2 linked regions of the Homo sapiens genome follow. The protein of the gene in region 2 purifies or fractionates together with the protein of the main gene of each other region. This does not show direct contact. Each region holds a gene or a part of one and is shown on either strand. Other genes may lie near its edges.

Evidence for each region. The genes of interacting proteins can lie anywhere in the genome.
Region 1: the proteins of SC5D (region 2) and LZTFL1 purify together in Homo sapiens (affinity purification with mass spectrometry; one large-scale study listed by BioGRID and IntAct). This does not show direct contact.

What each region holds. Positions count from the first base shown.
Region 1 is NC_000003.12:45,834,869-45,839,876, reverse strand, and holds part of LZTFL1 (leucine zipper transcription factor-like protein 1), read left to right. Parts: intron 1-1,825; coding exon 1,826-1,950; intron 1,951-4,092; coding exon 4,093-4,287; intron 4,288-5,008. UniProt on the Homo sapiens protein: Regulates ciliary localization of the BBSome complex. Together with the BBSome complex, controls SMO ciliary trafficking and contributes to the sonic hedgehog (SHH) pathway regulation. May play a role in neurite outgrowth. May have tumor suppressor function.
Region 2 is NC_000011.10:121,295,105-121,300,112, forward strand, and holds part of SC5D (lathosterol oxidase), read left to right. Parts: intron 1-5,008. UniProt on the Homo sapiens protein: Catalyzes the penultimate step of the biosynthesis of cholesterol, the dehydrogenation of lathosterol into 7-dehydrocholesterol (7-DHC).

The sequences.
Region 1 (5,008 bases), on a different chromosome or scaffold from region 2:
CAGAGTAGGTGAAACAGGTTAGGCCATGAAGGGTGGGTAGGAATTCAGTGATGTGGTGGAGCATGTGTGTACTGGCTGGTGAGATCCAATTGTATGCATTTCTTCTTACCTCTTCATTCAGTGACATTATATTGGTGGCTTGAAATCAGCCATGATGGAAGTATTTATGCCATGGAAATCAGCAGTGCTACAAATCAGGCCCCCCTACCTAGAAAACCTGCTGTTAAATATTTACCATCATACCACTGGGTAGGATTCAGATTCTCAAATAGGAATGGAGAGATACTTTAGGATCAGAGTAACATGAGTGAAAGTCAAGGCAGGAAATTTTAAGTCATGTTTCAGGACTGATGAGCAGACTAGTGTGGCTAAAGTAGAGTGTTCATTTAGTAGAATCCTGGGAAACAGGGTAAGAGAGTTTGGGAGGTTTTGGGAGAGCAAAGAGTGTAAATGTAATACTATAGACAGTGAATAATTATTAAGAATCTGGGCCGGGCGTGGTGGCTCACCTCTGTAATCCCAGCACTTTGGGAGGCCGAGGCAGGTGGATCACGAGGTCAGGAGATCGAGACCATCCTGGCTGACACGGTGAAACCCCGTCTCTACTAAAAATACAAGTAATGAGTCAGGCGTGGTGGTGGGCGCCTGTGGTCCCAGCTACTCGGGAGCCTGAGGCAGGAGAATGGCATGAACCCAGGAGGCGGAACTTGCAGTGAGCCGAGATTGCGCCACTGCACTCCAGCCTGGGTGAAAGAGCGAGACTCCGTCTCTAAAAAAAAAGAATCTGTATTTATGCTTTGTTTTTAGCAAATTGTGACATTGTTTTGTGATATTTCTAAATTGTGGGATATTCTTGCCCATACTAATGTGTGACTATCAGAGATAATATTGTCTCTAATGTAGGTAGTCAATTATTTTTAGTGTGTAATAGAAATCTGTCTTGTTATTCACAACTCAAGTGCATATATGACTGTAACCTGTTGTACTTGAGTACCTTAGAGATTTCCCTTTTGCTTCCCTTCAACTCTTGCTATCTCCATTCTATCCTCCAGACCTTAAAGACTTATGCCACCTAAACTGCTTTGTAAATCTCATCAGCAGCTTAATTACAAATCCAACTAACATGGCTGATGCCTTGCTCTTAGCTGACTGCTGACCTGCTCTGTTATTTGGGTGCTAGCCCTACCTCCATGGGCTTGCCTCTTAAATATTTGTCAAGCTGTCATCTGGTTTAAAGTACAGACCAGTTAGTGGTTCTTTCCAAATCAAATATACTTGTTAAAGCTGTATTTAATGGGGTAAGGGTTAAGCTGCTATAACAGAGTTGCTGTTTTTTGCTGTAAGGTTAAGTGGCTTGAAGAATACAGAAGTTTATTTCGCTCTCACTTAACAGCCATCTCACTGCTCATCTCAGTTCAGTGAGAGGGTCAGTGCCTCTCCATGAGGTAGAGACGTGGGGCCCTTTCATCTTGCGGCTCCCCCAGCCTCTAGGGCATTGATGTTGTCTGCATGATTCAGTCAAGTCGCCACCTCTTCCAGGTTTCAGAGAAACAGGGAGGGGCAGAGGTACACCCCATATCTTAAGACCAGGTCTTTGGAAGTAGACCACAACATTCATTGCTGAGAAGTAGTCAGCAGTGACTTGATTGCAAGGAGGGCAAGGAAGTGTCATCTAGGTGGGCAGCCATGCAGCCAGGAAGAAGGGAAGAATAGAATTTGATGGAGATCTAGCAGTCTCGACCACAGGATATCTTATGCATTTTCATTGTTGGCTCTTTGATCAGATCTTCAAAACTAACAATTAAATTACCTCTTTCTTTTTCAGGCAGAGTTGGGCCTAAATGAGCACCATCAAAATGAAGTTATTAATTATATGCGTTTTGCTCGTTCAAAGAGAGGCTTGAGACTCAAAACTGTAGATTCCTGCTTCCAAGACCTCAAGGAGAGCAGGTATCAGAGGAGGACTCTAAGCAAACCAAATAGGAACATGGATTCTTTCTGGTAGCCAGTATGGGGGTGCCATAGCAGAGGCCAGACAATTTCTGGGATTCATCATGATCAATTATTTGCTAAGAGCAGCTACACTAAGCCTCATGGATACAGGAAACAAAAGAAGTTGTATTGTGGTGAAAGCAATGAATCTATTGTCAGAAATGCATGTGATAATTGTAGGATAATTGTAGGATGGCAGAGTTTGAGAAGGAAGTTGCCAAGGGTTTGTGGATTAATGATTGGCTTGTTGTATTGAAGATTCCAGAACTTTAATTACTTGAGTTATTAATTAAATGGTTAGAGCTATAAGACATGGCAATTAGTGAGAAAACACTTCTGTGTTTCATACTGAATAATTAGTAGAGAGGAAAACAGCAGGAAATCATAATGCTGACTAGTACCAAAATTGTTAGTTGATTTCTAGCATGAGATGATAATGGTTGGACCGTAGCTGATTTGTAGCAAGAGATGAATGTCAAGTCAGATATAAGTGAAAAAGACCTCCAAGTGAGCTCCAGCTGCCATAAACTCATGAATGTCTCAGTATTAGAGGCCATCAGCCTTAGACCATTCAGTCCATTAAACTCATCTGGTAATCTGGTTTCCTATCCCCCAGCAGATGAAAGCAACAATTTAATTGGCGAGAACATATGTTCTATTGAAGAATATAGAAAGATTATTAATATTTTAATAAGGATTTATATTTAAAAAGTTGTGGTTTTTTGAGAATGACTAAATTCTGCTGGCTAGATGAAACATTAAAGAATTATAAAACAAATACTATTAACTTGAGTTTAACTATGATAATGCTTTAGTGTAACTGGGTCTTGCTTGATGATGTCTTTTTGGAAGTAGGGAAGAAAATAAAGCTGAGGTTGCGGTAGCTGCTCTTCATCTGCTGAGAATCTGAGGGAGAAGGGACTTTGGAGGGTAGAGGTAGGGAGAGGAGAGGACTGTGTTACTGTGATACTGTCATTGAAACTGGAAGGCACACACAGAAGCTTTTTCAAGGATTTAGCTGTTGGGCATGAATCCTTTGCCCAGAATCATTGCTGAAGATGATTGTGGGGTTTAGTCACCACCAATGTAACCATAGGCAAGTCATCTCCACTCTTCAAACCTGTGTTCCTATCTGTAAAGTTAGGGGATTGTAGAAGATGGCACCAAAGTTCTCTTCCAACCCAAGCATTCTCTATGTAAGAGTAGTTTTGTTTTTTTGTTTGTTTTTTTGAGACGGAGTCTCACTTTGTCGCCCAGGCTGGAGTGCGGTGGCATGATGTCGGCTCACTGCAACCTCCACCTTCTGGTTACAAGCGATTCTCCTGCCTCAGCCTCCTAAGTAGCTAAGATTAAGGCACGTGCCACCACACCCAGGTAATTTTTTGTATTTTTAATAGAGAAGAGTTTTTGCTGTGTTGGCCAGATTGGTCTCGAACTCCTGACCTCAAGTGATCCACCTGCCTCTGCCTCCCAAAGTGCTGGGATTACAGGCATGAGCTACCATGCCTGGCCCTGAGAGTAGATTTCTAATGCTATTGTTGATGATGATATTCATTTTTGTGGAGTGTTCAGTAGAACTTTAAGATAAGCTAGTTTTTATTATTATTATTATTTTGGGTCTCAAGAATGCAAAGAGAAGCAATATATATAATTACCATTTATTTCCCATAGACGTTTACTAACCTGTGAATAGTTCATACAGTTATTAAAATGTTAGAGAAATATTAGAAAGAAATGAGACTATGCCTTCCGGGTGACTTTTGAAATTATTAAATGTAATAAGACTGATTTCAGTGGAGTTTGAAATAAGACATTTAATACTAAAAAGTTAAAAAAGTAGATGATGGTTTTGGGAATGTGTTTGAGCATTTACTTGTATTAAAGGATGTGCACAATTTAATCATTTGAATAGATGTCAAAAATTAATTGAGTTTAAATTATTTTCAATGTTTATTAATAAAGAAGATAGTTCCCAGAGAGATTTTCACTGTAATCTTTGAATTTCTTAGATTACATGAATGTGGGTTTCTTAATTTTGCTGTATTTTGTAGATTTTTCTTGTTGTTTTTCTATAAGTTTTGGATCATGGTTGTTTTTCAGGCTGGTGGAGGACACCTTCACCATAGATGAAGTCTCTGAAGTCCTCAATGGATTACAAGCTGTGGTTCATAGTGAGGTGGAATCTGAGCTCATCAACACTGCCTATACCAATGTGTTACTTCTGCGACAGCTGTTTGCACAAGCTGAGAAGTGGTATCTTAAGCTACAGACAGACATCTCTGAACTTGAAAACCGGTAATAAAATTTGAACTTGCAACTGTGACAATAATGGCCCAAGCATAATCTTAAAAGTTAGTGAACATCTTTGGCTGCATATTTTCTTGGGGCTAGTGTGTGAGGAAATTTGGGTAGGGTAACAGCAAAGCATTGAGTCACTGAGTGATCTCTTGGGTACCACTAAGCACCCTTTTAAAAGTTCTCTGTTTCTACTGTTCCTAGGTATTACAAAGGCCATCGAGATTTATGAAATTGCTTTTCAGGCTATCATTAATTATTTCTTACAGCATTTTTGTTAGCTTGGTCAGTATTACCATCAGTCTTTATAGATTGGTCAACTAAGAAATAGAGATTATGAGACAGTTGAAAAGTCAATTCAAATATAATAAATACCATCAATTCAATCCAGTAGCATTGGAAGTTTTCTAAATAATGGAATTTAAAAGTATACATTTATTAACTTTGAAATAGGAAATATACAAAAAAGCTTATAATATGGACATCTAAGAGCTCAAATTCAAAAAATATGGTAAAATTGGTGAAGTTGAAACTCATTTTAAGAAAAAGCATGCCAGAAATCAGGAAGGACTGACCGCCAAGCCCCGTGAACTACTCTAAGCACAGTCACAGCACATCAGTTCACATGCAGAGTGTTGAACAACGCTGAGGACAACCTATGAGCTGGGGAGGAAAATCATTGAACTTCTGCCACTGTCAGTAGATGACTGGTGAGAAAACT
Region 2 (5,008 bases):
TACATTGAACCCGTTTTGAACCCCAGATATCTGAGACAGGTCTCAGTCAATTTAGGAAGTTTATTTTGCCAAGGTTAAGGATTCACCCGTGACACAGCCTCAGGAAGCCCTGACAATATGTGCCCAAGGTGGTCGGGGACACAGTTTGCTTTTATACATTTTAGGGAGACATGAGACATCAATCAATATGTGTAAGAAGTACATTGGTTGGGTCTGGTAAGGCGGGACAACTCACAGTGGGGGCTTCCAGGTTAGAAGCAGATAAGAGACAAAGGTTGCATTATTTTGAGTCCTTGATTAGCCTTCCACTGAATGCACACATTTCGTCTGGCTCAGTGAATCTGCATGTTTACATAAACAATAGGGCAGAGGAAGCAATCAGAAATCCATTTGTGTCAGGTGAGCCTCAGAGGGATGACTTTGAGTCCTGTCTGTCCTTTATCCACAAAGGAATTTTCTGAGGGCAAATTGTGAGGGAGGGATGTAGCTTCTCATCCTTGTAGCTGTCTTATTTAGGAATAAAGCGGGAGGCAGGTTTGCCTAACATAGTTCCCAGCCTGACTTTTCTCTTAGCTTAGTGATTTTGGAGTCCCAAGATTTATTTTCTGTTCACACCATCATTCCTTACCCACCCCCTATTCCTACCCTACCCAAATCTGCTAGCTCTGCCAGTATTCCCTATTTCAATTACAATGACATCACCATCTACTTAGACCAGCTAAAGTCTCACAGTCATCCTAGATTTCTCTCTCTTTCACTTCCCAGCAAACGTGGGTTATCCAAATCCTGTGGGTGTTTTTACTTGCGCGAAATCTCTGCTGGCTAGTCTTAACAGCCACTGCCCGAGGTCAGGCTATCATTTTCTCTGGGTTATTCTACCACAGGAACAACCAAACTAGTCTCCCTGCTTCTCACCGATAACCCATATTTCTTTTCTTTCCTTTTTTATAGTGACGGAGTCTTGCCGTGTTGCCCAGGCTGGTCTCGAACTCCTGGCTTCAAGCGGTCCTCCTACCTCAGCCTCCCAAAGTGCTGGGAATAAGCATTAGCCACTTCACCTAGCCTAGTAGTCCAGATTTCTAATGGAATGGTTTTTATGAAATGTGGGTCTGATTGTATCTTTTTCCTACCTAGAAATCTTTAGTGTCTCCTCATAGCGTGTGAGAGAAAGTCCAAATTCCTCAGCAGGACAGCAGATCCCTCCATGCGTAGTCTAACAAATCTCCTTTACAAGTCCATCCCCTAACATGTTTTTCCCTCTGCTCCACCCCATCACCCTGTCTAACACCCACCAACCACACGCAGTGAGCCATGAATGCATCATGCTCTTCTCTTGCTTTGCAGTTGTGACTTCTCTTTGGAATGGCTATCCCTAACCTTTTCTTTCTGGTGATGTCCTTCAAAGTCCAAATCTAATATCATATTCACTAGGAAGCCTTTTACCATAAGCTGAGGTAGTTGTGTTGTCTTTTCTGATCTCATAGAATTTGCATATATATCTGTATTGCAGCACGTGTCCTATTGCTAGAATTGTTTTTGTAGTTGCCCTACCTTTAAGACTGATTTAGACTGTGTCTGTTTAATGTTTGTATGCTCATTACCTAGTGTGGTGCTTAACAATAAGTTCTTATTTGAATGAATTAACAATGGCATGTATGATGAGGAATATATGTTAATATCTGGCATTTGGTGCTAATTAAATTTTTCTTTTCCTGACAAAGTGAGGAAATGTTCATAATTCATATCATAAACAAAGGGCCAAACTCCCTAATATATAAGGAGCTTCTAGAATTTGACTTTTATAAAGATACTAAAAACTCAGTGGGAAAACGGGCAAAGGATAAAAACAGATAAACACAGAAAAAAATATAAATTATTCTAAATATATGGAATGATGCTCAACTTTACTCATAATAAGGTAAATGCAAATTAAGTATACCCGAGATAGCCCTTCTTTCTTGATGAATATGTGAAAGTTTGATGATATCCCCTGCTAGTAAGATTGCAGAGAAATAGGTAAGGTACTGTCCTACATCGTTTGAGGACTACAAAGTAGTTAAACTCTTATGGAGAGCGATGTAGCAATATCTACCAAAGTTATGAGTGTATAACTCTTTCGCTCAGCTCTTCTTTTAGAAATCTGCCTAATGAGGGCCTGTCATTGTAGCATTATTTGTAATAGCAAAAAATGGAACCTATCCAAATATCTAGATATGTGTTAAGTAAACACCTATATAACAGTGAATTAGACATAATTCAGTTGAACTCACAGAAATGGACACAGGTCCATAGTCCCTAGTCACAATTTGGAACTCTGGAAAGCCCTGTAAAACCAAAAAGTTGTTTTCTTTTTGCTTTAAGTTCGGCTCTCAAAATCATTTGATGACAAATTCTCACTCCATCTGACCGAGGTGCCCATTGTGTCTTGGCACACCTACCAGGTATTCCTGGTGTTTTTTATTGTTTTGTTAATTTGGGTTTAACGTGGCAGTGTGGGAACTACCACCACATGTGACTTAAAGAATAGAAAAACAGATCGTGGACGTTTTATAGTGGTAGTAAGGACTAAGAATTGATGAAAAATAGGGAGACATTGCAGAGGACTGAAAATGAAGATTCTAACCATGTTTCGGTTAAGTGGATTTCACAATAGGAAGTAAACAGATGCCACTCATTGCTTTGTTGATGATGGAAAAAGCTGGCATATATGAAGACCTGCTACTGAAGGATGTATTTAGTATTAACAAGGAAGAATTCAGAAACTTAGGAAGCAGTGTGGTGAAAAATATCTAAAAGTATGACAAGAGTTAATTGAAAATTTACTTTCTAGACAGCTCTTTTATGCATTCTCCTCAACTGTAGGTTATAGTTTTTAATCATTTACTTTTACTTCACTGTGACCAGAATACAGCCTTTTTCTTTGGGTCTTGCTCTGTTGCCCAGGCTGGAGTTCAGTGGCACGAATATGGCTCACGGTAGCCTTGAACTCCTTAAGCAATCCTCCCACCTTAGCCTCCTGAGGGTAGCTGGGACCACAGGGCTGTGCACCACGCCCGGCTAATTTTTGTATATTTTGTAGAGATGGGATTTCAGTATATTGCCCAGGCTGTTCTCCAACCTCTGAGCTCAAGGAATAAGCCTGCCTCCCAAAGCGCTGGTATTACAGTCATGAGCCACCATGCCTGACCAGAATACAATCTTTTTCTCCAAGGAGTGCTACACTCTGGGAAAAAGCAAGTATATTGCTTGCACAGTTAAGGGAGGCCTAGGAATCAAAACTTCCTTTAAGAGTTCAGTTGTAAAGATCCTGTTGTCAAAATTACTTAATGCTTGAAATGATGTTGATAAATCAGCAATAATAAATGTTTAACATTTTAGCTGACAATGAGGTTTGAAAATGAACCTGTAGATATTTTGGAAGATTTTCTATCACTAATGAGGTGATGATACCTAATCTCTTTAATTATACCATACATTTAATGGCCCAAACCATAAATACGTCAGGAGAAGCTGATGTTGAAGAAATGCTGAACATTAATCCTGATGCTTCTGTTCGGCACTTTTTGGGTGATGGGGACATTGCTGAAAGGTTTCTAAATGCACATAATTGTCACGCACGTCCATGTGAAGAGACCACCAAACAGCCTTTGTGTGAGCAATAAAGCTTTTTTAATCACCTGGATGCAGTCAGGCTGAGTCCGAAAAGAGAGTCAGCAAAAGGAGTTAGGGGTGGGGCAGTTTTGAAGGATTTGAGTAGGTAGTGGAAAATTATAGTCAAAGGGAGTTGTTCTCTTGCGGGTCACAAGGTGCTCAGTAGGGGAGCTTCTGAGCCAGGAGAAGGAATGTTACAAGGTAATGTCATCAGTTAAGGCAGGAACCGGCCATTTTCACTTCTTTTGTAATTCTTCAGTTGCTTCAGGCCATCTGGATGTATACGTGCAGACTTGGGCTCAGAGGCCTGACAATAGCGGGAAGATAGTAATAACTACATGAATGATTAAATGATGACTATATTGTGAACACAGATGGGAAGATCACTGAAGGCATTATGTAAATAATCATTGCTTAAGCAGAAATATATTAATAAGACAGATGACATTGGTAGAAATCTTTTGAAAAGGTTATCTTGGATATTGTTGCTTTATCACTTGAGAATCCTGATCCTGGCCCATGACCAATGTCTAATTCCAACCTGATAGGCCCTTCTCTTTAAGATTCTCAAGCAATCAGATGTAATGAACATTTATTGCGTGTATGTATACATATACATGCACAAGTATTTAACTTTGATTTTATATATATTTGAAAGTTTACTGAATTTTTCTTTTAAAAAGAGAATACATTGTTTATTGTCTGTACCAGTCTATTTTCCATTTGTCATTTGTTACTCCATACATAATTACATAAATTGTTAATATACAAATGAATTATAATACCATTTACAGTATGTACTTATCCCACTTAATGTGAATATTCACATTTTCTAAACAAATATTTGATATGAGCTGGTCATGGTGACTCATGCCTGTAATCCTAGCACTTTGGGAGGCTGAGGTGGGTGGATTGCTTGAGTCCAGGAGTTTGAGACCAGCCTGGGCAATATAATGAGCCCTTGTCCATACAAAAAAATTTTTTCTTAATTGACTGGGCATGGTGGTGCCCACCTGTAGTACCAGCTCCTCAGGAGGCTGAGTCAGAAGGATCACTTGAGCCCGGGAGGCAGAGGTTGCAGTGAGCTGAGATTACACTACTGCACTCCAGCCTGAATGACAGAGCAAGACCTTGTCTCTAAATGAATAAATAAATAATAAAAAAGAACCAAAACCCCCAAATATTTGATTTATTTAATGACAGGGAGAAGTTTTGACCTTTGCAAAATGTATTTATAGGAATTTTGAATTCCGAAATAACATCTGATGCCAAATGTTTTAAGTAAGAATGGTAGTAGACCTGTATTATAAAAAAGGAGATGGTGACTTCCAAAACAGCAGAGTAAGAATCTCTGAAA